4 linked regions of the Homo sapiens genome follow. The protein of the gene in region 4 purifies or fractionates together with the protein of the main gene of each other region. This does not show direct contact. Each region holds a gene or a part of one and is shown on either strand. Other genes may lie near its edges.

Region 1 (2,606 bases), on a different chromosome or scaffold from region 4:
GTGCCACTGGGGTGGGGGTGGTGAAACTTTACTGCCATGGAAATAACCAGGGCAAAAGATTGGTGTGAGGCAGAAGGCTAATTCAAGTTGGGATTTTTTTTTTTTTTTTTTTGAGACGGAGTCTCGCTGTCACCCAGGCTGGAGTGCAGTGGCGTGATCTCGGCTCATGGCAACCTTCGCCTCCTGGGTTCAAGTGATCCTCCTGCCTCAGTCTCCTGAGTACCTGGGACTACAGGTGCATGCCATCACGCCTGGCTAATTTTTGTATTTTTAGTAGAGACAGGGTTTCGCCATGTTGGCCAGGCTGGTCTCCAACTCCTGACCTCAAGTAATTTGCTGCCCTCGGCCTCCCAAAGTGTTTGGATTACAGGCATCAGCTACTGCGCATGGCCTGAGTTGGAATTTTTAAAAGTAGATATATTAGCCAGCCTGCCTCTGCATGGGATGAGTGCGGCACTGGTTCTTGGTAGGTTTTTAGAAAAATAAGATATAAATGTGTAATATAAAGAAAAAGATTAACATTTTTTTAAAAAGTAGATTTATTAAAAAACAGTTGAAGGTCTGAGTGTTGAGAGGCAAATGGGGTCTCTGGGGGATCCTGTCCTGCAGCAGGCCTGACTTTCAGATGACTGTGCTTATAAGGCAGATCAGTGCCTTCCTGGTTGCCTTAGTTCTTTCCATTTCAGACACCACATTTGGATCCTGGGGCAGCTGCTCAACTCTACCCAACTCTACCATGGCTACCTGGGATTGGAGAACATGTGAGTATTAGCTACTTTTACAGTCAAATAGGGATCTTGTAGAAGAAACAGGTAGACAGACCCACCAGTCTCTCATTCTGACCTAGCAAGCTGGTGAAGTCACTGTCGGTCCTAGTTCCCTTGTTTGTTGGGCTGCAGGCCCATTCCAACACAGCCCAACTCCCCCCCCCCCCCCTTTTTTTTTTTTTGAGATGGGGCCTCACTATATCGCCCAGGCTGGTCTCAAACTCCTAGGTTCAAAGGATCTTCTAGCCTCAGTCTCCTGAGTAGCTGGGACTACAGTGCGTGCCACCATGCCTTTTTTTTTTTTTTAATGAGACAGGGTCTCACTATGTTACCTAGGCTAGTCTCAAGCAACCCTCCTGCCTCAGCCTCCCAAGTAGCTGGGACTACAGGCACAAGCCACTGCACCCAGCTCCAACTCCTTTCTTTATGCAAATACAAAAGGCAAACCTTGGTGCGACACTTAGTCCTTAGTAGCAACCCTGGCTCATCCTCCTAGTCTTTCCCTAGTATTTGCATCAATGGCTAACTAAGCTGATGGCAGACCTCATCCTGGGGTAATACTCATTCAGGGAAGCAGCAACAAAGGAGGGTGGGGAAAGAGGTCAGGTCAGATTTACCTAACATGATATGTAGCATAATAGGTGCCCATTAAATCTCAGCTACTAGTAAAGTTGGTGAGGAAGAGGTATGGAGGCGTTAAGACCTGAAGCACTGAGTTGGTCCATAACCCTGGGCTTTAGAACAAGGTCTGGTTTTATTTTCTGGCAGAATCTTTTAAAATATAAAACAGATAAAACACATCTCAACCCTGCAATCTGCCAGCATGCCTTGTTTCTACAAGATGCATGCTAGACCATGAGACTACATAGCAAAGGGTCTTTAAGAGGATTTGGTTGGGAGAAATAGAAAAAGCAGATCTTAGGGAAGCCTGGGCTAGCCCAAAAGCTGAGCTACATCCCTGAACACTAGAGCAGTCCTTGTCTTTTCAGATCCTCGTATGTCTTCTTATTCACAACATTCCCACTTGAGTCTTCATATTCTTCCTGAAAAGGAAGGGGTACACTTTGTTAGACAGCTCTCCTAAAAGAAATGTTTGGAACCAATCTCTAAGTACCTGAGCTCATCCTGGCCTGATTCCATGGCATACTCTGGTACACTAAGATTGGCATTCATCTAAGCCTTTCTCAACTGGGGTTCCACAAGAGAATTAAGTCCCACTGCCCCAAAGCAGCCACCGTGTGCAATGAATTAACTTCTCTCGTAGACATCTAGAATGATATCAGTCATGACCCATCATTAGAGTATCTGAGAAAATAGTTTATTTAGCTCTCTATGTTTAAGATGGGGAACCCTGGTTGAGAAAGGCTGACCTACAACAGCAGTTTTCAAATGGTTCCCAAGAATCCCAGGATTCTGCTCAGAGGCCATTGCAGGGGTTGAAAGGGAAGCCAGGAAGTCTGAGCTTCCCCATGTCCAGGGCAATTCTGCTTGATTCTATTTTATATATCAGAGTACTATATTACAAGTGGAAGAGAGTTTTGCTGCCAAAAAGAAAAAAAATACTGAAAACCACTGACTCAAAAAAAGGGAGGCTATTGTCAGTTACTATGGGACTTGGAGTGAGTCAGTACCATTCCTTACATACATGTCATTCTTGATCTCTGAAACCTGCTGCTTGGGATGACCATCATAAGACCAACAAGGACATCTCCCTGTCGCTATGAGAGTATCATCTCTCATTAGATGCTTTCCTCAAAGGAGATCTAATACATGATACAGAGTCTCGGCATTTTAGTCTATAAATCTCCATGGCAGAACATGAGATTGGGTACTCCCACT
Region 2 (7,000 bases), on a different chromosome or scaffold from region 4:
CTGGGCAGGGAACCCTGTAGGTCTAAGCCGTAGTTCACACTCTTAACCATGAGCCCCCTGCTAACTCCCTGAGGTCCTATCCAATACTGCAGTGACCTTGGTCCTAGAGGGTGGGTTTCAAGGGATCAAAGACTGCATTTCACCTGCTGGATGTGAGATGAGGTCATCTGACTCTGGCCGTGTCAGCCCTAGCAGGCCTAGCAGTGCCCTCCACCACTCACCAGGCAAACAAATGTGGCTTCCAAGAAGGACAACCACCCCCGTTTGCTAAGCCCTTCCTAGGACCAAGCTGTGGGCCCTGGGCTTCCCTGATAGTCCAAGTTCAGGTTGTTACTTCTGAGCAGAGGCAACTGAGGCTCAGAGAGGCCAAGTGGCTTGCCTGAGATGATGTGACTACTGAGCAATGAAGCTGGGCCTCATACTACCCTGCCTAGGACTGCAGGCCCCCCCACCACAACGCTTCCTCCCCAGCCCCTCAATACCCCACTTTGGCTGCCAGAGGCTATGAGCAGCCCCAGCTGGCCCCTCACCACCCTGGACTATAACTGGGTCAGCCTTTGAGGGCAAGGACCAGGCCTTGGCCCTCATGGGTCCCTGCTTCCAGCACCAGGGCCTGACCTAGAACACACTCTCTGGAAACGTGTTAAACTGCAAAGAATCTGGCTGGGCATGGTGGCTCACGCCTGTAATCCCAGCACTTTGGTAGGCCGAGGTGGGTGGATCACCTGAGGTCAGGAGTTCGAGACCAGCCTGGCCAATATGGTGAAACCCCGTCTCTACTAAAAATACAAAAATTAGCCGGGCGTGGTGGTGGGCACCTGTGATCCCAGCTACTTGGGAGGCTGAGGCATGAGAATCGCATGAACCCAGGAGGTGGAGGTTTCAGTGAGCTGAGATCGCACCATTGTACTCTAGCCTGGGCGACAGAGCGAGACTCCGTCTTGAAAAAAAAAAAGAAAAAAAAAAAAAAACTGCAACGAATCCAAGCTCCTCCAGCTCCTCATTCATGAGAGACAGGGTAGCTGCGGCATTGGAAACATGGACTCTGAAGTTTTACTTCCTGCCATCCAATCTGATGAGATTCAGCCAGGATAGTGCTTGGTACACACACCTGGAACACACTAAGTGCTCAAAAAGATGTCTGCTGCTGTCAGTCTCTCCATTATCATCACCATCATCTGACTTTTCCTTTGCACACTACATAGTTTCCCACCTCCGTGCCTTTACTGATGCTGTTCCCTTTCCCTTCCTCCACACAGGTCCAAATTTCAGTCAGGCTTTGCATATTTTAACTGCCACTCTCTAGTCATCATGCATAATTACATAGTCATGCAGAAGGCAGTTGACAGTAATCAGTTGTGGCATGCATTAGTGCCCACAGATGCCAGCCCAGTGTCTGGCCTCCGGGAGGTGGGATGAGGTCTGTCCTGGGCTGGGAATCCAGCACCAAGCCCGCCTCCCACACCCTCCCCCCAGCACCTGCTTGCAGAGTTCCTCCTCAACCTCGATCTCTTCTTCATCCTCATCATCCTCTTCCTCTTCTTCATCACCCTCGAAGCAACCCACAGCGTCCACTGTAATGAAGTGGTCCTCATCTTGGCCAGCAATTTCTTTCTCAAGCGACTTCAGCTGCCCAGGGAGTAGGCAAGGAGCTCAGGTCAGCTCTGAACAGCCAGGGGGCCATGCCCTACCCACCCCACCCCTCCCCTGAGAGTCCCAATCCCTCCAGACCCGCTGTGAGTTTGGGCTGGGATAAACCTCAACTTGCTACACAGCCTTGGCCAAGGCTCTGTACCTCTCTGGGCCCATGTCCTCTGAGGGAGCTCAGGTTACCTCCTTGGCTTTGTCCTTATGCCCCTGGGACTTCACGTGCTCCACAAACTTGCGAGGGGTTTTGAAGTAGCGGTTGCAAACGGTGCAGAAGGGTCGCAAGGATTGTTTGGCAATCTGGAAAAAGGCAGGCCAACCAAGCAGTGTCCCCAGCTGCAAGCCCCCTGACTAGCACCCAGGCAGGGCCCAGCAAGAGCTCACCTCCCCCGGGCAGGCCCACCATATCTGTAACAAGCCGGGCTGTGCTCCACCCCTGCACTGGAACGTGGGCAAACACATCTCTTCGTGGTGTGGGTGGCTGAGAGATAGGATGGCAGATGGCAACACAGAGACAGGACAGACACAGAGAGAAGACGAGAGAGAGGGCAGCTGCCCAAATAACCCCTGTGAGCCCCGTGGCTGAATGGCAGGTGAGATGGGGCCTGGCCTACACTGGACAGATGGGGAACCTGAAGCCCGAAGAAGAAACAAGACTGACTCCTCCAGAAACTGCATTGTGGGTTATGGGTGTGCAGGGGCAAAGAGGAACGTTTACTTTCCAACTGGGGCTCTGTGTTGTCTGGACTCCACTTGCAGACGGCAGTGCGGGTGCCTCTGCAGCGTGCAGGCCCTCCTACCTTGTGGTCCTGTGTCCTGCGGTGTTGGATCAGGTCCCCCATGTAGTAGAGCTGGCAGGTGTTGCACCAGCGCCTTGGTGGAGGCTCCCTGAATGACAACAGTCAAAGCAAGTACAATGTGACGCCAGAAAGACAGCAGCTGTCTGAGAGCGCTCCATAAGTGTAATCCATTCCAATAGCAACTCCCACAGGATCTCTTAGGGAAGCTTAACAAAATGGTTCTGAGGTTCATCTGGATGAGTACTTAAGCAGAAATAACCCAGGAAACTTTAGGGGGAAGGGGAATGAAGCACTGGGGATACCAACCTTTAAAATGAAAACCACAAGCTACAATAGATAAAACTGTGTAGTGTGATGTACATCCTGACAGTGTATCAGTGGGAAAGAATGGAAAGTCCTAAACAGGTTCAAATATTGGTAAGAATTCAGCTTCGCCAGCCTGGGCAACATGGGGAAACCCCATCTCTAGCAAAAATACAAAAAATTAGCCAGGCATGGTGGCTCATGCACCTGTGGTCCCAGGTACTCAGGAGGCTGGGGTGGGAGGATGGCTTGAGCCTGGGAGGCAGAAGTTGCAGTGAACCAAGATAGCGCCACTGCACTCCAACCTGGGTGACAGGGTGAGACCCCCATCTCAAAAAAAAGAATTCTGCTTCTGATAAATTGGTATTGAAAAGCATAGATTATACAACAAATTATGTCAGAACAATTTGTTGTCTACTTGGAGAAGAAACGCCTTCTGCTTCCACCTTCTACCTTACTTGAAAATGAATTCTAGCTGAACTACCAGAGATTCAGGCATAAAAATAAAAACCATATACTTTAAAAAGGGAGGCCGGGCATAGTGGCTCACACCTGTAATCCCAGTCCTCAAGGCAGAAGGACTGCTTGAGCCCAGGAGTTTGAGACCAACCTGAGCAACACAGCAAGACCCCATCTCTACAAAACATAAAAAACATTAGCTGGGTTTGGTGGCACATGCCTGTAGTCCTAGCTGCTCAGAAGCTGAGGTGGGAGGATTGCTTGAGCCCAGGAGGTCGAGGCTGCAGTGAACCATGACTGCCACTGCACTCCAGCTGGGGCAACACAAGACGCTGTCTCAAAAATAAATAATAAATAAATAAAAAGGGGGCCAGTCGCAGTGGCTCATGCCTATAATCCCAGCACTTTGGGAGGCTGAGGCAGGAGGATCGCTTGAGCCTAGAAGTCCAAGACCAGCCTAGGCAACATAGTGAGATCTTGTCTCTATATAAAATAAAATTAGTCAGGCATGGTGGTGTGCACCTATAGTCCTAGTTACTTGGAAAGTTGAGGTGGGAGAATTCCTTGAGCCCAGGAGGTTAAGGTTGCAGTGAGCCGAGATCACCATTGCCCTCCAGCCTGGGTGACAGAGAGAGACCCGGTCTCAAAAAATAAAATAAAATAGGGCCGGGCACGGTGGCTCACGCCTGTAATCCCAGCACTTTGGGAGGCCAAGGCAGGCACATCATAAGGTCAAGAGTTCAAGACCAGCCTGACCAACATGGTGAAACCCCATCTCTACTAAGAATACAAAAAAAAAAAAAAAATTAGCCGGGTGTGGTGGCACGCGCCTGTAATCCCAGCTACTCGGGAGGCTGAGGCAGGAGAATTGCTTGAACCCAGGAGGCGGAGGTTGCAGTGAGCCAAGATCGCGCCACTGCACTCTAGCCTGGGCAAAAGAGCAAGACTCCGTCTCAGAAAATAAATAAATAAATAAATAAAATAATACTTATTTTACAAGGGGAGAGCAACTATTTAATCTTGGGTTGGGAAAGATCATTGCAACATATAACATCAAAGCCAGAAATCATAAAGGAAAAAACTGATAGATCCGATTGCATAAAAATTTAAAACTTCTACATGTTGAAAGATATAAGAAAATTAAAAAGCAAACAAATGTCAATGACAAGGGCTGTGCTATCACTGGCCAGAGTGTATCCTTTATGTAGGCAGCTTCTTAAACCAAGGCTGGGCATACCGCTGGTTCACGCCTGTAATCCCAGCACTTTGGGAGGAGGGTTCCTTGAGCTCAGGAGTTCTGAGGCTGCATTGAGCTGTGATCACACCACTACGCTCCAGCCTGGGTGACAGAGTGAGACACTGTCTCAAAAAAAAAAAAAAAAAAAAAAAAAAAAAAGAAAAAAGAAAAGCCAAATACATGTAAAACCCTGGCTGGGCATGGTGGCTCACGCCTGTAATCCCAGCACTTTGGGAGGCCAAGGCAGGCGGATCACTGAGGTCAGGAGTTCAAGACCAGTCTGGCCAACATGGTGAAACCCTGTCTCTACTAAAAATACAAAAAAATTATCCAGGCGTTGTGGCAGGCACCTGTAATCCCAGCTACTTAGGAGGCTGAGGCGGGAGAATTGCTTGAACTGGGAGACGGAGGTTGCAGTGAGCCAAGATTGCGCCACTGCACTCCAGCCTGGGCAACGGAGCGAGACTCCCTCTCAAAAAAAAACCAAAAAAAGTGTCTCACTCAGCGAAAATAAGGACTCTCTATAAAATATGCAAATACACAAGTTTTCATAAATTTTAGGGGACACATGTCCACTGATAAAGCCCTGTAAGAGCTCTGCTGGGGAGGGCTGCTTAGAGACAGAAAGTGTTCGTGTTGTCATGTAGCATGATTCCGATTTTTATTTTTAAAGATTGTATAAATCCAGAAAGGATCACAAGAAGAACTAGGTCAAAATGTAAACAGTGTTTATCTCTGGGTAATGGGATTATGGGTGATTTTTATCTTCTCATGTGTCTGTGTCCTTGTATTTTCAAAACGTTATATAATGAGCGAATTATTTTTAAAATCAGAAAAAAAAATTTTTTTGTAGTCAAAAAAGGCACATCAGCCACACAGTGAGAGTACCAGGTTTTAGATTTTAGGATTTAGGGACATTTACTGTCCTCAGTAAAATCTTCTTAATACTGCTGCAAGCAACAAAATCAGACTTTAAAGCAGCTTGCTCCAGGCTGGAGTGCAGTGGCATGATCAAGGCTTACTGCAGCCTCTACCTCCTGGGCTCGAGCAATCCTCCCACCTCAGCCTCCTAAGTAGCCAGGACTACAAGTGCATGCCACCAGGCCTGGCTAATTTCTTTTTTTTTTTTTTTTTTTTTTTTTTTGAGACGGAGTCTCGCTCTGTCGCCCAGGCTGGAGTGCAGTGGCGCGATCTTGGCTTACTGCAAGCTCCGCCTCCTGGGTTCAGGCCATTCTCCTGCCTCAGCCTCCCAAGTAGCTGGGACTACAGGCGCCTGCCACCACGCCCGGCTAATTTTTTGTATTTTTTAGTAGAGACGGGGTTTCACCGTGTTAGCCATGATGGTCTCGATCTCCTGACCTCATGATCCACCCGCCTCAGCCTCCCAAAGTGCTGGGATTACAGGCGTGAGCTACCGCGCCCGGCCGGCTAATTTTTTTATAGTTTACAGAGACACAGGTCTCATGACGGGCTGGTCTTGAACTCCTAAACTCAAGCAATCCCCCCACCTCAGCCTCCCAAAGTGCTGGGATTATAGGTGTGAGCCACCATGCCAGCCTGGCTCTATTTTTCAATGTGCATTTTGATCTCTGTGAGAGAAAAACACAACAAATGAAGAAAGGGGGTGGGGAGAGAACATGGTCATCAAACAGGCAGACACCTTGTGCCAGTGTCACGTCTGAGGCTGCCCAGAAACGGCCAACGCGGGCCGGGCATGGTGGCTTGCACCTGTAATCCCAGCACTTTGGGAGGCCAAGGCGGGCAGATCACAAGGTCAGGAGATCAAGACCATCCTGGCTAACACAGAGAAACCCTGTCTCTACTAAAAATACAAAAAATTAGCCGGGCCTAGTGGTAGGCGCCTGTAGTCCCAGCTACTCGGGAGGCGGAGGCAGGAGAATGGCGTGAACCCAGGAGGCGGAGCTTGCAGTGAGCCGAGATCGCGCCACTGCACTCCAGCCTGGGTGACAGAGCGAGACTCCATCTCAAAAACAAAACAAAAAAACAAAAAAAAAAAACAAAGAAATAGCTAAGGTAGGCAAGGGCTTAGTTCACAGCACCTGCCCTGGGGGCTTTGAGGAGGGAGGAGACGGGCACCCCCACCAGCTAGGGTATTGGGATCCAGCCTTCAGCCCCATTCCTGGGAACACCCCCCTGCCTTCCATGGGGAAATGTATTTCCATGTGGTTTGGGTAGAGCTGGCCTGCCTAGGCCTAGCCAGTCAGAACACCTTATCCCTGGCCAGGGGATTGCTTCAGAAACGTGCACGTGACCACAATCAGATTAACCAGCATTTCCACTAGAAACTGTTCTGCTACCGCAGACACAGGTGACTGCCCTTCCTTGGAAGTCACTGTGCAGGGAGGCTGGGGCTGTGGGTACCTGGTGCCCACTGTAGTGAGAGATGGAGCCTCTCTAAGAAATGGTATCCCCTGGGTCCAGCTGTATCTCTTATATTCCCACTAACCTAAGCCAGAAACATTGTTCCTTTTTGCTCAAGCTAATTTCTGTCTTATAGAAATTAGAATTTTTTTCACTTACAACCGCGAAGAAC
Region 3 (7,058 bases), on a different chromosome or scaffold from region 4:
CCAAAGTGCTGGGATTATAGGCATGAGCCACTGCGCCTGACCTGTAATTGTTTTTGAAAACAGAAAAAAAACAAAAAAAATTAACAAATGTAAAAAGGGAAAAGACTTTAATAATTGCAACACACCCAAAGATAGCCACTGTTAAGAAAGAGAAAAAGAAAGTGTAAATGTACTTTACGTGTGTCTTTCTATAATGGCATGATATTTATACATATTTTTCTATAAATTGCTTTCTTGCTAAATATATAGTGCATTTATTTCAGTACTGATGCAGGGATCTAATTCAGCCATTTCAGTGGCAATACAGTACCCACTGTACAGATGTAGCATAATTTATTTGCTATTCATAGTTTATTCATTTATAATTTATAGTTCTCTACTGATGGACTTTCAGGTTATATTGGTTTTTCACTCATATGTAAAAAGTTGCAGTAAGCATCCATGCTTATATATCCTTGGTAATTGTCCAGTTATTTCCTTAAGAACATGACTAAAAATGAGATTGTTGGAATCAAATCATAAGTCCATGTAAAATGTAGATGGCCAGGTAGAAAGGGCTTCCTGGTTTGCAGTTTGCAGCCCTTCTGGCAGTGAATGTAGGGGCCCATCTCCCCATACCTTCACTCATACTAGGCATTATCAGTTTATAAAACTATAATGAAACTGTTTCAAATGCACATTTCTGAATTAGGTAGAGTATCTTTTTATATGTTTTATTACCTATTTGTAGATTGCTCAAGTCTCACACCTTTCTCTTTTGGGATACATGTTTTTTTAAAATTTGTTTTTGTTTTGTTTTGTTTGAGACGGACTCTCGTTCTGTCACCAGGCTGGAGTGCAGTGGTGTGATCTCCGCTCACCGCAACCTCCACCTCCCAGGTTCACACGATTCTCCTGCCTCAGCCTCCCGAGTAGCCGGGATTACAGGCACGCACCGCCACACCCAGTTAATTTTTTTTTGTACTTTTAGTAGAGATGGGGTTTCACCATGTTGGCCAGGATGGTCTCGATCTCTTGACCTCATGATCTGCCCGCCTCGGCCTCACAAAGTGCTGAGATTACAGGTGTGAGCCACCGCGCTCAGCCGAAATTTCTTAATGTCTCTAAGCTTCTATTTCCTTGTCTGTAATATGGAGATAAAGTCAATCACAGTATCCACCTCACAGAATTGTGAAGATTAAAGGAGGTGATGGATGTATAGTGTTTAACACAGTGTCAGCAGATGAGAGGTGCTGTGATAGCTCTAGTTCTTATTATTATAGATTTCTGTTATGATGAAGACAATAGATACGGTATGAAATAAGAGAGTAATTTTTTTCCTGTTTATTTGAAATGCTTCTTTTAAATCACATACATGTATCTTTGTGCTCCTTAGATCTTTATTTCTTTATGAGTTGCATACTATTATTGAAAAGCAAGAAAATTATGTAAAAATACTGTATGACTTTATGTCCTATTTCAAAGCAGATGTATATTCAAGTTATTAAATTTTAAAATTTTTAACATTTTACTTTCTTGTGGTCTTAATTTATATATCATTTGGTTCATTTATATACAATTATATGTTTTTCAAAAGATTTGTAAATCAGAGTTGTGCCCACTGAAACATCTATATGGTACCCTCACACATGGCATAGGAACACTGATAGATGCAATGTGCCAGCCTCTGCCATGGCTAAAAGATGTGTTCCTGGAATCTGTATTTGGAAATGTAATATATTTTATTTAAAATTGTGGTTAGGTCCCCAGACTAGACATAAAACTTTACTGAACTCCTAATACTGCTGAAGTAATATAGAACAGTTTCTCATATTTAATTTCCCTTTTATAAATTCAGTGGAAGAATGAATTTGAGGTTCTACACACCTAATTGGCAGGTAGACTTTGGCAATCTAACCCCCTCTTTATATTAGAAATTTGTGATATTGGATGTCTGAGACACTTGCCACTTTAAGGTAATACCACTCATTATAATTGGTCATATAAAAAATAGACTAGACACTCACTAATTTATTTTTATTTTTTCATTTTTTGAGACGAAGTCTCGCTCTGTCACCCAGGCTGGAGTGCAGTGGCATGATCTCGGCTCATTGCAAACTCCGCCTCCCAGATTCAAGCGATTCTCCTGCCTCAGCCTCCCAAGTAGCTGGGATTATAGGCGGCTGCCACCACGCCTGGCTAATTTTTGTATTTTTAGTAGAGATGGGGTTCACCATGTTGGCCAGCCTGGTCTCAAATTCCTGACCTCAGGTGATCCGCCCGCCTCAGCCTCCCAAAGTGCTGGATTACAGGTGCGAGCCATTGCGCCCGGCCCTCACTAATTTATTTTTATAACTCCATTTCTTAAAACCTGTAGCTTTATTTTAAAAACATGATTACAATGTACTTTTATTTTCCTTCTTTTGGCTGTTTAGGTGTTTGGAGGCAAACCACAGGAGTCTCTTAACTGTGTGTAGTAGTAGTCCAAAGGTTTATGGCAAAGGATACTGGGTTTTCAGCGTGCTGCCATCATGGAATTGCTACTTTTAAGAATAGGGGCTGGGTGCAGTGGCTCACACATGTAATCCCAGCACTTTGGGAGGCCGAGGCAGGTGGATCACTTGAGGTCAGGAGTTCGAGACCAGCCTGGCCAACATGATGAAACGCTGTCTGTACTAAAAATACAAAAATTAGCCTTGCGTGGTGGTGGGCACCTGTAATCCCAGCTACTCGGGAGGCTGAGGCAGGAGAATCACTTGAACCCGGGAGGCAGAGGTTGCAGTGAGCCAAGATCATGCCACTGCACTCCAGCCTGGGCAACAGAGTAATACTCTGTCTCAAAATAAATAAATAAATAAAAATAAATGCATAGAATAGGAAGGGAAATGCTTTCTGAATATGAAAAGGTAGATGCTGCTTTGAAACTTGCTACCCATTTTATTGTCACCTAAACATCACTGTGATCAGTCTAGAGGGAAAGTCATAGTGTCCTTTTTTCTGTAAAGTATGTCACAGCCATATATACCTATGAAATGTAAGAGAGATTTTAAGTTATTACCCATTAGGAAGATAGTTGCTGACACGTGGTGCTTTTCCAAAAGCTCTGCTCTTCTCGTTCTCTTACACCCACTTGACTGCTTTAATAGAAAATAGCTTTCGTGATATTTGAATCAGTCCCAAAATGTGTCATTTTGCTCTCGTGTGTGTGTGTATTTGTGGATTAATGCCCATTTCTTTTATCTGATTACATCATTATACTGATAGGCAAAGATTACATGAGGAGTGGTTGCTAAGAGAGCAGAAGGCACAAGAAGAATTCAGAATAAAGAAGGAAAAGGAAGAGGCGGCTAAAAAACGGCAAGAAGAACAAGAGGTATGGTAGGAATCACGTAACTAGTGAACAAACTGATTACTTCACCATAATAACTCTCATGAAGAGTTGCCTATCTTGGGAGGTTGGAGTGAGCTGAGATCACGCCATTGCACTCCAGCCTGGGCAGCAAGAGCGGAACTCCATCTCAAAAAGAAAAAAAAAAAAGAGTTGCCTATCTTGAACTTAAAAAAAAAAAACAAAAAACTGATCTTATTCAGTTTGCCAGTGTTTTAAGTTTTTCATCTATGTGCGCTGTATGTGAAATGTTTTTAAAAAGTGACTGAAACAAAGTTACTTTTTCTTCCCCTTTAAAGAGAAAGTTAAAGGAACAATGGGAAGAACAGCAGAGGAAAGAGAGAGAAGAGGAGGAGCAGAAACGACAGGAGAAGAAAGAAAAAGAGGTGATTCCTGTCATGGGATGTGCTGTGTGATGAGTTTGAAGAATAATCAGTAGGCATGTCAGAGTTTGGGTTTTTTTTTTCTCTTTTTCTTGTCATTTCATTGTTTGTTTGGAAAGAATCATATTTCAGTTTAGACATAACACCAGAGTTCCCTTCTGATGCTCTTCTTCGGGTCCGTGCAGTGGCAGATTCCTTAAAGTTTTCTTCAGCTTTACCCTATTTACCCTTTATACTGGGCATTGGCAAATGTTGTAAAGGGCCAGATGGTAAATATTTTAGGCTTTATGGTTTGGTCTCTGTGGCAAACATCCAACTCTGCCAGTGTACCCTGAAAGCAGCCATCGATAATATGTAGATGAATGGGTATGGCTGTGTTCCAGGAAAGCTTTATTTACAAAACAGGCAGCTAGCCCTTGCTTTATAGCAAGTTATGTTCTTCTGAGGTTCTGCTGTATATGAGTTGACTTCTTTAGAGAATAATACTTTGTTTTGTTTCCACATTTATTTAGGTCATAAGAGAACTGCTTATGACATGTCAGCAAGAATTAGAGGATTTAAAGAAATCAGGAACTCAAATATTGAGGAACTAGGAAACAGTTTTTGTTATTTGTATTAAATCTTGACTTCCTCTTCCACTTAGGCTATGAAGATAATTGTAGCTAACACACAGTTGCTTATTTAAAAAAAAAAAAAAATCTGTGAGGCATATGTGTGTATGTATCTTCTCTATCTTCCAGGATTCTTTTTTAAGGATTGATTTGGTATGTTTTGCTGCTATTCCTTGACAGTATATTTATTTCAGAGGTATCACAGCTCATCTTCCCTTGACTGATTCATCAGGATTTGTCTTTTTTGTAATACAGCTAAATTTAAATAGCATAAAATTGGATAATCACCTTATAATTGGGAAAAATGCATGTGTCTTCATTGTAGTCAATATGGGGCAGAAGCAGCCTCCACGATCTTTGTTTTTTGTATCTTAGGCCATCAGTTAATTTCAGTGCAGATTTTAAACACCTTTATTTGAGCACTTCTTTCCAGATGAGGCAAGTTCATGCTAGGTTTTTAGGGGGCAGAAAAATTGTTTGGAACTTGTCATTTTTTTATAGAGAGGAATTAATTCCCATTTTAACAGTAGAGTGTTCCTCAACTGAGGTCTTTCAGGAATTCAGTAACAGCTAAGGCCTCTTTTGAATGCTTTTGTTTCAGAGGAAATCTGTGAGACTTCAAGGAGAAATGAGGGAAATGAAATAGATTCTAAGCTTATAAAAAAGAATCAGCAGTATGTGTTCCTGCTGTATGCTAGACACTTCGCTAGCGGACAGAGACAGAGCAGTGAAAGACACAGTCTTTGCTCTCATTGAGCTAGTTTTTTATATGGGAGTGTGAGATGATAAGCAAAACAGATCATTCAAAATGTGATCATATTAAGTGCTATAAAGAAATAAAGCAGGCCAGGCGTGGTGGCTCACGCCTGTAATCCCAGCACTTTGGGAGGCTGAGGCGAGAGGATCACGAGGTCAGGAGTTCGAGGCCAGCCTGGTCAACATGGTGAAACCCCGTCTGTACTAAAAATACAAAAAATTAGCCAGGCGTGGTGATGGGCGCCTGTAGTCCCAGCTACTCAGGAGTCTGAGGCAGAAGAATCACTTGAACCGGGAGGCAGAGGTTTCAGTGAGCCAAGCTTGAGCCACTGCACTCCAACCTGGGCAATAGAACTAGACTTCGTCTCAAAAAAAAAAAAAAAAAAAGAAAGAAATAAAGCAGAGTGATGTGATAGAGTAATGAGAATAGAGTTGTGCTTCTATAGATTGCCTGCTCAAGGAAATTTCTGAGGAGGTGATGTTTGAGCTGACACCTGAGTGGAGAGATCTCAGCAAGAAGAAGCCTGAAGCTTGAAGGCTGAAAAAAGGCCAGGGAACCTGAAATCTAGAGTCCAAAGGAGAGAAGGGCAGTGGAGGAGGTTGCTGAGGGAGAGGGGGCAGTGGAGGAGGTTGCTGAGGGAGAGGGGGCAGTGGAGGAGGTTGCTGAGGGAGAGGGGGCAGTGGAGGAGGTTGCTGAGGGAGAAGGGGCAGTGGAGGGTAAGCAGAGTCAGATCATGTAGGGCTTCCTGGATTTGAAGGAGGAGTTTGGATTTTATGTTTCCTATAATGGGAAGCCATTGAAGGGGTTTAAGCAGGGAATGACTCTGTCTCATTTATATCTGTACCTTTTAACAGATCATTCATTTAAAAAAAAAATTTTTTTGAGATGGAGTCTCATGCTGTCGCCCAGGCTGGAGTGCAGTGGCGTGATCTCTGCTTACTGCAACCTCTGCCTCCTGGGTTCAAGCAATTCATATGCCTCAGCCCCCCGAGTAGCTGGGATTACAGGTGCCTGCTACCACGCCCAGCTAATTTTTGTATTTTTAGTAGAGACAGGGTTTCACCATGTTGGCCAGGCTGGTCTCGAGCTCCTGACCTCCAGGGATCCACCCGCCTCGGCCTCCCAAAGTGCTCGTGTGAACCACTGCACCAGACTTTTTTAACAGATCATTTTTACTTTACTGAAACCTCTGCCTCCCGGGTTCAAGCGATTCTTCTGCCTCAGCCTCCTGAGTAGCTGGGACTACAGGCGCCCATCACCACACCCGGCTAATTTTTTGTGTTTTTAGTACAGACAGGGTTTCACCATGTTGACCAGAGGACAAGGAGAGAGAGAGGAATTCAAGTCATATTTTTAGGTTTTTAGTTTGAATAGACAGATAGACTGGCAACACTATTCACTGAGGGAGCATTCAGGTGGATGTGGGCCAGGGAGTGTAGAGGACAAGAGTTCTGTTTTGAGCACCACAAATAAGCAACTAGACATACGAGTCTTATGTAATGCTTTAAGGGGCTAGGGAAGATAAGACTGTCTGTTAAACATAGGTACAACTTGTTCAAATGCCAATTAGGTAGAAATTTACTGGCATATTGCAGAACCTCCTTTGCCTTATTAAAAAGTTAGAATTTTCTCCTAAATGCTAATTACCACTGGTCATGTCATATTTTAGCTTCTGCTAAATGTTTATGATTTCATCTAGCATTGTTTTTTGGGTTTTTTCGTTTGTTTGTTTGTTCGTTTTTTTTTAGACAGAGTCTTGCTCTGTCGCCTAGGCTGGAGTGCAGTGGCGTCATCTCGGCTCACTGCAACCTCTGCCTCCTGGGTTCAAGCGATTCTCCTGTCTCAGCCTCCCAAGTAGCTGGGATTACAGGCACGTGCCACCACACCTGGCTAATTTTTGTATTTTTAGTAGTGACGGGGTTTCACCGTCTTGGCCAGGC
Region 4 (5,260 bases):
GGAGAAGGGACGGGGGACAGAGGGACAGAGTGACTGGAGCTGGAGGGGGAAGAGTGCAGGGAGGCAGCTTGCTTTGGCAGGACGCATGGAGGTGTCAGACGTGGGGGGCGGGGTGGCGGCCAGGCCAGCGAGCCAGGCCAGGGCCAGGACGGACAGGAGACACGGGGGTGGGGGCCGGATGCCCACCTAGGGGTTGTCTCCCAGCGGGGCCCGCCCTCCCTGACTCAGCCTTTCCACCTACCCCGACCCCGGGAGAACTGGGAGGGGGATGGGAGGCACCCGCCCTGGGGCCCACCACCCCCAGGTCTCAGAGGCAGTGACCAGGGGGTGTGTCTCCCGTCATCCCTACCCCACTCTGTCTCCACCTCTCTTCCTGTCTCCCCATCTAATCCCTGTCCCTGGGACTGGCTCCACCTCTGTCTGTCAGCTAGATGCTCACGTCTTGACCATCTGACTAACCCTAATTCTGACTCAATTTCTGTGTCTCTCATCGCTTTTTAAAAACCTACACAACAAATTTACGTATAGCAAAGTATATTGTAAACAAATTTAATGACCAAATGATAGACTGGTAAAAAATGTGCCTATCACCAAGGGCTGATACCTTTCCTGTGGCCCAGGCCCTCTGCTCTTTAAAAATGGGGCACAAATACAGGCAGGTAAGAGACAGACAGCTCTCATCCTGCACTCTTGGCTTTCTGAGAGATATGACCCCAAGGTCCTGGAGTCTAGCTGCTGCTTCCTCCTCTGGGAAATAGAGGAGTGATATTGGTAGTACCTAGGGCATAGCACTGCTGGGACAATTCAGTGATTTGGGGACTGATCTCCATATCAAGATGACCTGATCCTGTCTGTGTGCGGGACAGTGGCTAGCACGGAGCCCTTGTTAGGCCCGCCTACCATCTGACCCTTCTCAAACCTTCCCGTCTGAGGACATCTGCATGCACACTTGTCCCTCCAATGCTGTCTCACTCTGGATGGCCCTGACACCTGAGAGGCCAGACAGCCAAGTGGTTTCTAGGACCTTTGTGATTCTAGGCCTGGGTTCCTGTTTCATTTCTGCCTCTGATGGCCGAGTGGCCTTGAGGAAGCAACATCTTTCCAGGCCTCCTTTGACCCACTTCACTAGTTCATGGGGCCATCTGAGGATCCAACCCGGTGTCAGGCACTTCGCTCGGGCCTGACAGAGGACAGAAGCGCTCCGTAGCAGAGGCTTTCGTTCTTTAATAGTCGCTCTGAGCATCTTGTCTGCCTCCATCCAGCTCTCACTTTCCCTGTCTGGCTCTAATTCTGGTTGACCCAGAGGGCATAGCTGAGGCTCGGAGGTCAGGAACCGTGGACTCCAGGAGGCAGTTTTGAGGGTCCTTCAGGCTTGGCCACGGCAGGATACCACCATTCCATCTCAGAGGCATGAGGAGTCCCTAGGCCCCGACTTGGTGACCCTTGCCCTGTGTGCCCCCTCAACAGTGGCCAGGCCCTCCTGTGTGTGTCTGCTGGGGGAGCAGGAGCCGGGTGTGGGGGCATGGGAAGGCGGGACGCCTGGGTTCCCACAGGCCCGGTGGCTGAGTCACCAGGCGGCCATCTGGCTCCCATTAGCCCAGGGCGGCAGGGGGCTCCATGGGGCGGGCCCTGCGGCCAGCTGGGGGCAGGGACGCTGGGGCAGGCTGTGTGTGGGATGACTCAGGACCCATGATAACAGCCTGTGCGCATTTGGGGAGTGTAAACAGGAGAGGGAGAGGAAGGCGGAGGAAGGGAAAATTGTGGTTGGGCAGAGGGGGGCTGGTGGGGCTGAGAAGGGTAGAGTCCCCCCTCCCTCTACACTCAAGCTGGCAGGCCCCGTGATCCACAGCCTGGGTCCTGGGGAGAGAAGAGAGCTGCCCCCATCCTCCCTGCCTGGGGTCTCCTCCCTCCCCTGGGGCTGTATTACTCAGTGGTCAGGGTTCTGCTGCCTATAGCAGCCAGGTTTGAGGGAAGGGGGAAGAAGGGGCCCAGAGCCTGGAGTGGGGGATCAAAACCCAGAGATAAAGGCTGAGAGACAGACAGAGAGGGACAGTGAGAGCAGAGGCCTAGAGAGGTGGAAATGTACAAGTAGAAAGAAGAGGCCCAGAGTGAGGCAGAAGGAGAGATGGGAACCTAACAGAAGCAAGGAGGCTCTGAGTGTGAGACACAGCGCAGACATAAACAGAGAGGGGGAGACAGACAGCACGGGAGGCAGCTGCGCTGGGGCCTAGGGGTCAGCACCGGAACCAAACTGGCCACTTCCAGCCACGAAAGGCCCTGCCAGCTGGCCTCCGGCAAGGGGAGGACTTTCACCTTGGGCCCTGCGGTGGAGACAGAGCCTAAGGCAGAGAGAGAGGGGGAGAAAGGGAGAGACAGCCAGCCAGAGCACTGGAAAGAGGGAGCGGGGGTAGGGAGAGAGACAGAAAGACAGAAAGAGACAGAAAGAAGCCCAGACAGACACCAAGAAAGACAGAGGCAGGAGACAGGGTGGGAGAGATGAGAAAGGGAACCCCAGAAACAGTGGGGGTGGGGGTTGTCTGAGATGAGACTAGACCCAGTGAGATGGTGGTGTGTGTGGGTTGTGGGGCACTGCCCTGATGTCCCCCTAGAGAAAGGGTCACTGAGCAGGCCTGGAATCAGCTGCCTTGTTGGGGATGGGGATGGGGCAGGCGGTGGGAAGGGTGGCGGCCATCAGTCCCCATCCAGCTCTGGGCTGGGCGCATCCTCAGGTTCTTCCTCATCAAAGTACCTCTCCTCCTCATCCCGTGCCACGATGTCGAGGTTGTCGAAGTCGGGGTTGTCGTCTACTGTGCTGCAGGAGGAGGAGGCTGTCAAGGACTGGGTCTCCCTGGGACCCTCGGATGCCCAGGTCAAAGGCCTGGGGCACCCTGATGTCAAAGGCCATGTGCTGGCAGCCGTCAGAGCTGACCCTCCCAAGGGAGATAGTGTTTAAAACTCTCAGGGTTTAAAACTCAAGGGAACATTTTCCAAATCAGAGTTTGCACAAAAACTCTGGGCTGGGCATGGTGGCTCATGCCTGCAATCCCAGCACTATGGGAGGCCAAGGCAGGAAGATGGCTTGAGCCCAGCAGTTGGAGCCCTGGGCAACAAAGGGAGACCCTGTCTCTACAAAAAAATTGAAAAAGTAGCCAGGCGTGGTGGTGAGCACCTGTAGTCCCAGCTTACTCAGTTGGCTGAGGCGGGAGGCTCACTTCAGGCCAGGAGGTCAAGGCTGCGGTGAGCTATGATCAAACCACCACATTCCAGCCTGGGTGACAAAGGAGACCCTGTCTAAAAAAAACCCCAAAGCTCTAGTTTTTCTTAAAAAGCTGTAAAATGTGGCGACACATGGGCTTACATTCTCAAGCAGGCAGTGGCTCTCAACAAAGAACCACTTGGGGGTAATTTTGCCCCCACGGCATTTTGACATTTTGACGTCATCACTGGGGGCTTGCTACTGCCCTCCAGTGGATAGAGGCCGGGATTAGCCAGAGCTGACCACAGGCAGGACAGCTGCCCATGCCCTAAGGCAGCAAGTAAACCCAGCAGCACGCACTTGGGTTGCCAAGCCTAGCTTGATTTGGCCACTCAGAGATCTCCTACCCCCTTGCGACCCCTTGCGACTGCTCCAGCCCCTTCTGCCCCTTGGTGCTGCTGGGGGCTCTGGCACCTACTATGGCCTCTGCCAGGAATGCTCCTCCCACTTCCTGCAGGCCTTTGCTGTCAGCCCCTCAGAGAGGCCTTCCCTAGCCACCCTGTCACTCCCCTCCCACTGCTTCACTTTTCCTCATGGCCCCATCACCATGAAGTGCTAGAAAATTCTAGATCTTCCTCACTAGAGTGGGACCCCTTTTCAGGCAGGGAAGCCTTTCGTTGGTTTTGGTCCCCGCCTTATCCCCAGAGCCTGTGGACATCACAGATGCTCAGCACATGCCAACTGAATGCACGGATGGGGGACACGTCGGGGCCACTGCTGCCCTCCCGAGGCAACACACTGTGGTCCCTGCCACCCCCAATTTCCTCCTGGGCCCTGGCTTGGGAACAGCAGTGATGCCTGCTGAATGAGGGTCCCCATGGTCCAGGCCCTCTGCTCACCACTTTGCGTGCAGGAACTGGGGCTCTGAGCAGGCCTGCCTGGCTGGAAGTGGAGCAGCCAGATTCCATTCAAGAGCCAGGGATCCCAGAATGGGAGGAGGCTCTGGTGACCATGGCTGGGCCCCACGGCAGGGGCAATCACAATTCCCACTTTCCTGATGAGCCCACCTCAGGACGGACGTAGGGTCCGCTTATGTGTGGTCACACATTTCACATGTCATCGGGGCTGGATGTGAAACCAAGGAGGGTCCTCTGCTGCTGGGCCCAGTGTTTGGGACCACAAGGCAAAGCTACCTTAAATGACAAAACCAATCTTTGACTGACACATCACTCTCCTGGGTCCTTTTCCAAAGCAGGTGGCCCACGTGTCTCAGCCCTGGGGTGCTACTGGAGAAATGAACAACTGTAACTGTGGGGGCAGCCAGTGCAGGCCCCTCCATGCCGGGCATGAACTTTGCCAGGGGTTACTTCCTGCAGCATGAGGAGGTCCAAGGTGAAGCGGAAGAGGTTGGGCTTCCTAGGGAGACTTGGGGGGCTTGGGGTAGTAGCCTCTGCCATTGCCAGGAGGGAAGTGTTTCAGGGTTTCATTGATACTGAGCTATATGTCATCCCTGTCCATCCCCTGCCTTAGAGGTGAGGAGACTGAGGGTCTGAGATGGACAAGGCTAGTCCGAGGTCACCCAGCCTCTTCCTTTGGCTGTTCAACCCCACATCCTGGAACTGTTTTGGGGCCTTGTAGCTCCACAAAGGGAGACCCCCACAGCTTGTTAAGGGCTCTGCATGTGACCAAAGGCCGTGGGATGCTGGGCTGGGGGATGGGGAGGTGGAGGCACAGGAGCACCTGTAGTCAAAGTCCCCGTCCTTGCCATCTAGGAAGCGCTGGTGCATGCGGCTGGTGAACTCCTCTCGCAGGATCAGCCTCTCCTCCGAGTCGGGAACCCAGGCCTCCGAGTCCTTGCCTGACCTCTGGTCTGCAGAGGGAGAGGAGAGGGGGTGTGAATGCGGGTGCACTCGGGCAGGCACTGAGCACAGAGTCCACAGAGAGCTGCTGCTCCTGTGCCCAGCCTTGCGCTGGGTGGCTCTGGGAACACACTAGTGACAGAGATGGCCCTGGTCCCTGCCCTCCAGGGACACGCATAAAACACATGACCATATAGTGCTCTGG

Evidence for each region.
Region 1: the proteins of CCDC97 (region 4) and SF3A3 purify together in Homo sapiens (affinity purification with mass spectrometry; 2 studies listed by BioGRID and IntAct, with this or other methods). This does not show direct contact.
Region 2: the proteins of CCDC97 (region 4) and CIZ1 purify together in Homo sapiens (affinity purification with mass spectrometry; 2 studies listed by BioGRID and IntAct, with this or other methods). This does not show direct contact.
Region 3: the proteins of CCDC97 (region 4) and ZRSR2 purify together in Homo sapiens (affinity purification with mass spectrometry; 3 studies listed by BioGRID and IntAct, with this or other methods). This does not show direct contact.

What each region holds. Positions count from the first base shown.
Region 1 is NC_000001.11:37,956,454-37,959,059, forward strand, and holds the end of SF3A3 (splicing factor 3A subunit 3), read right to left. Parts: intron 1,811-2,606; coding exon 1,733-1,810; 3' UTR 522-1,732; downstream 1-521. UniProt on the Homo sapiens protein: Component of the 17S U2 SnRNP complex of the spliceosome, a large ribonucleoprotein complex that removes introns from transcribed pre-mRNAs.
Region 2 is NC_000009.12:128,167,573-128,174,572, forward strand, and holds part of CIZ1 (cip1-interacting zinc finger protein), read right to left. Parts: intron 2,536-7,000; coding exon 2,448-2,535; intron 2,129-2,447; coding exon of another isoform or gene 2,051-2,128; intron 1,948-2,050; coding exon 1,834-1,947; intron 1,630-1,833; coding exon 1,480-1,629; intron 1-1,479. UniProt on the Homo sapiens protein: May regulate the subcellular localization of CIP/WAF1.
Region 3 is NC_000023.11:15,800,445-15,807,502, forward strand, and holds part of ZRSR2 (U2 small nuclear ribonucleoprotein auxiliary factor 35 kDa subunit-related protein 2), read left to right. Parts: intron 1-3,243; coding exon 3,244-3,352; intron 3,353-3,666; coding exon 3,667-3,753; intron 3,754-7,058. UniProt on the Homo sapiens protein: Pre-mRNA-binding protein required for splicing of both U2- and U12-type introns. Selectively interacts with the 3'-splice site of U2- and U12-type pre-mRNAs and promotes different steps in U2 and U12 intron splicing.
Region 4 is NC_000019.10:41,320,147-41,325,406, reverse strand, and holds the end of CCDC97 (coiled-coil domain-containing protein 97), read right to left. Parts: intron 5,067-5,260; coding exon 4,937-5,066; intron 2,813-4,936; coding exon 2,692-2,812; 3' UTR 534-2,691; downstream 1-533. UniProt on the Homo sapiens protein: May play a role pre-mRNA splicing through the association with the splicing factor SF3B complex which is involved in branch-site recognition.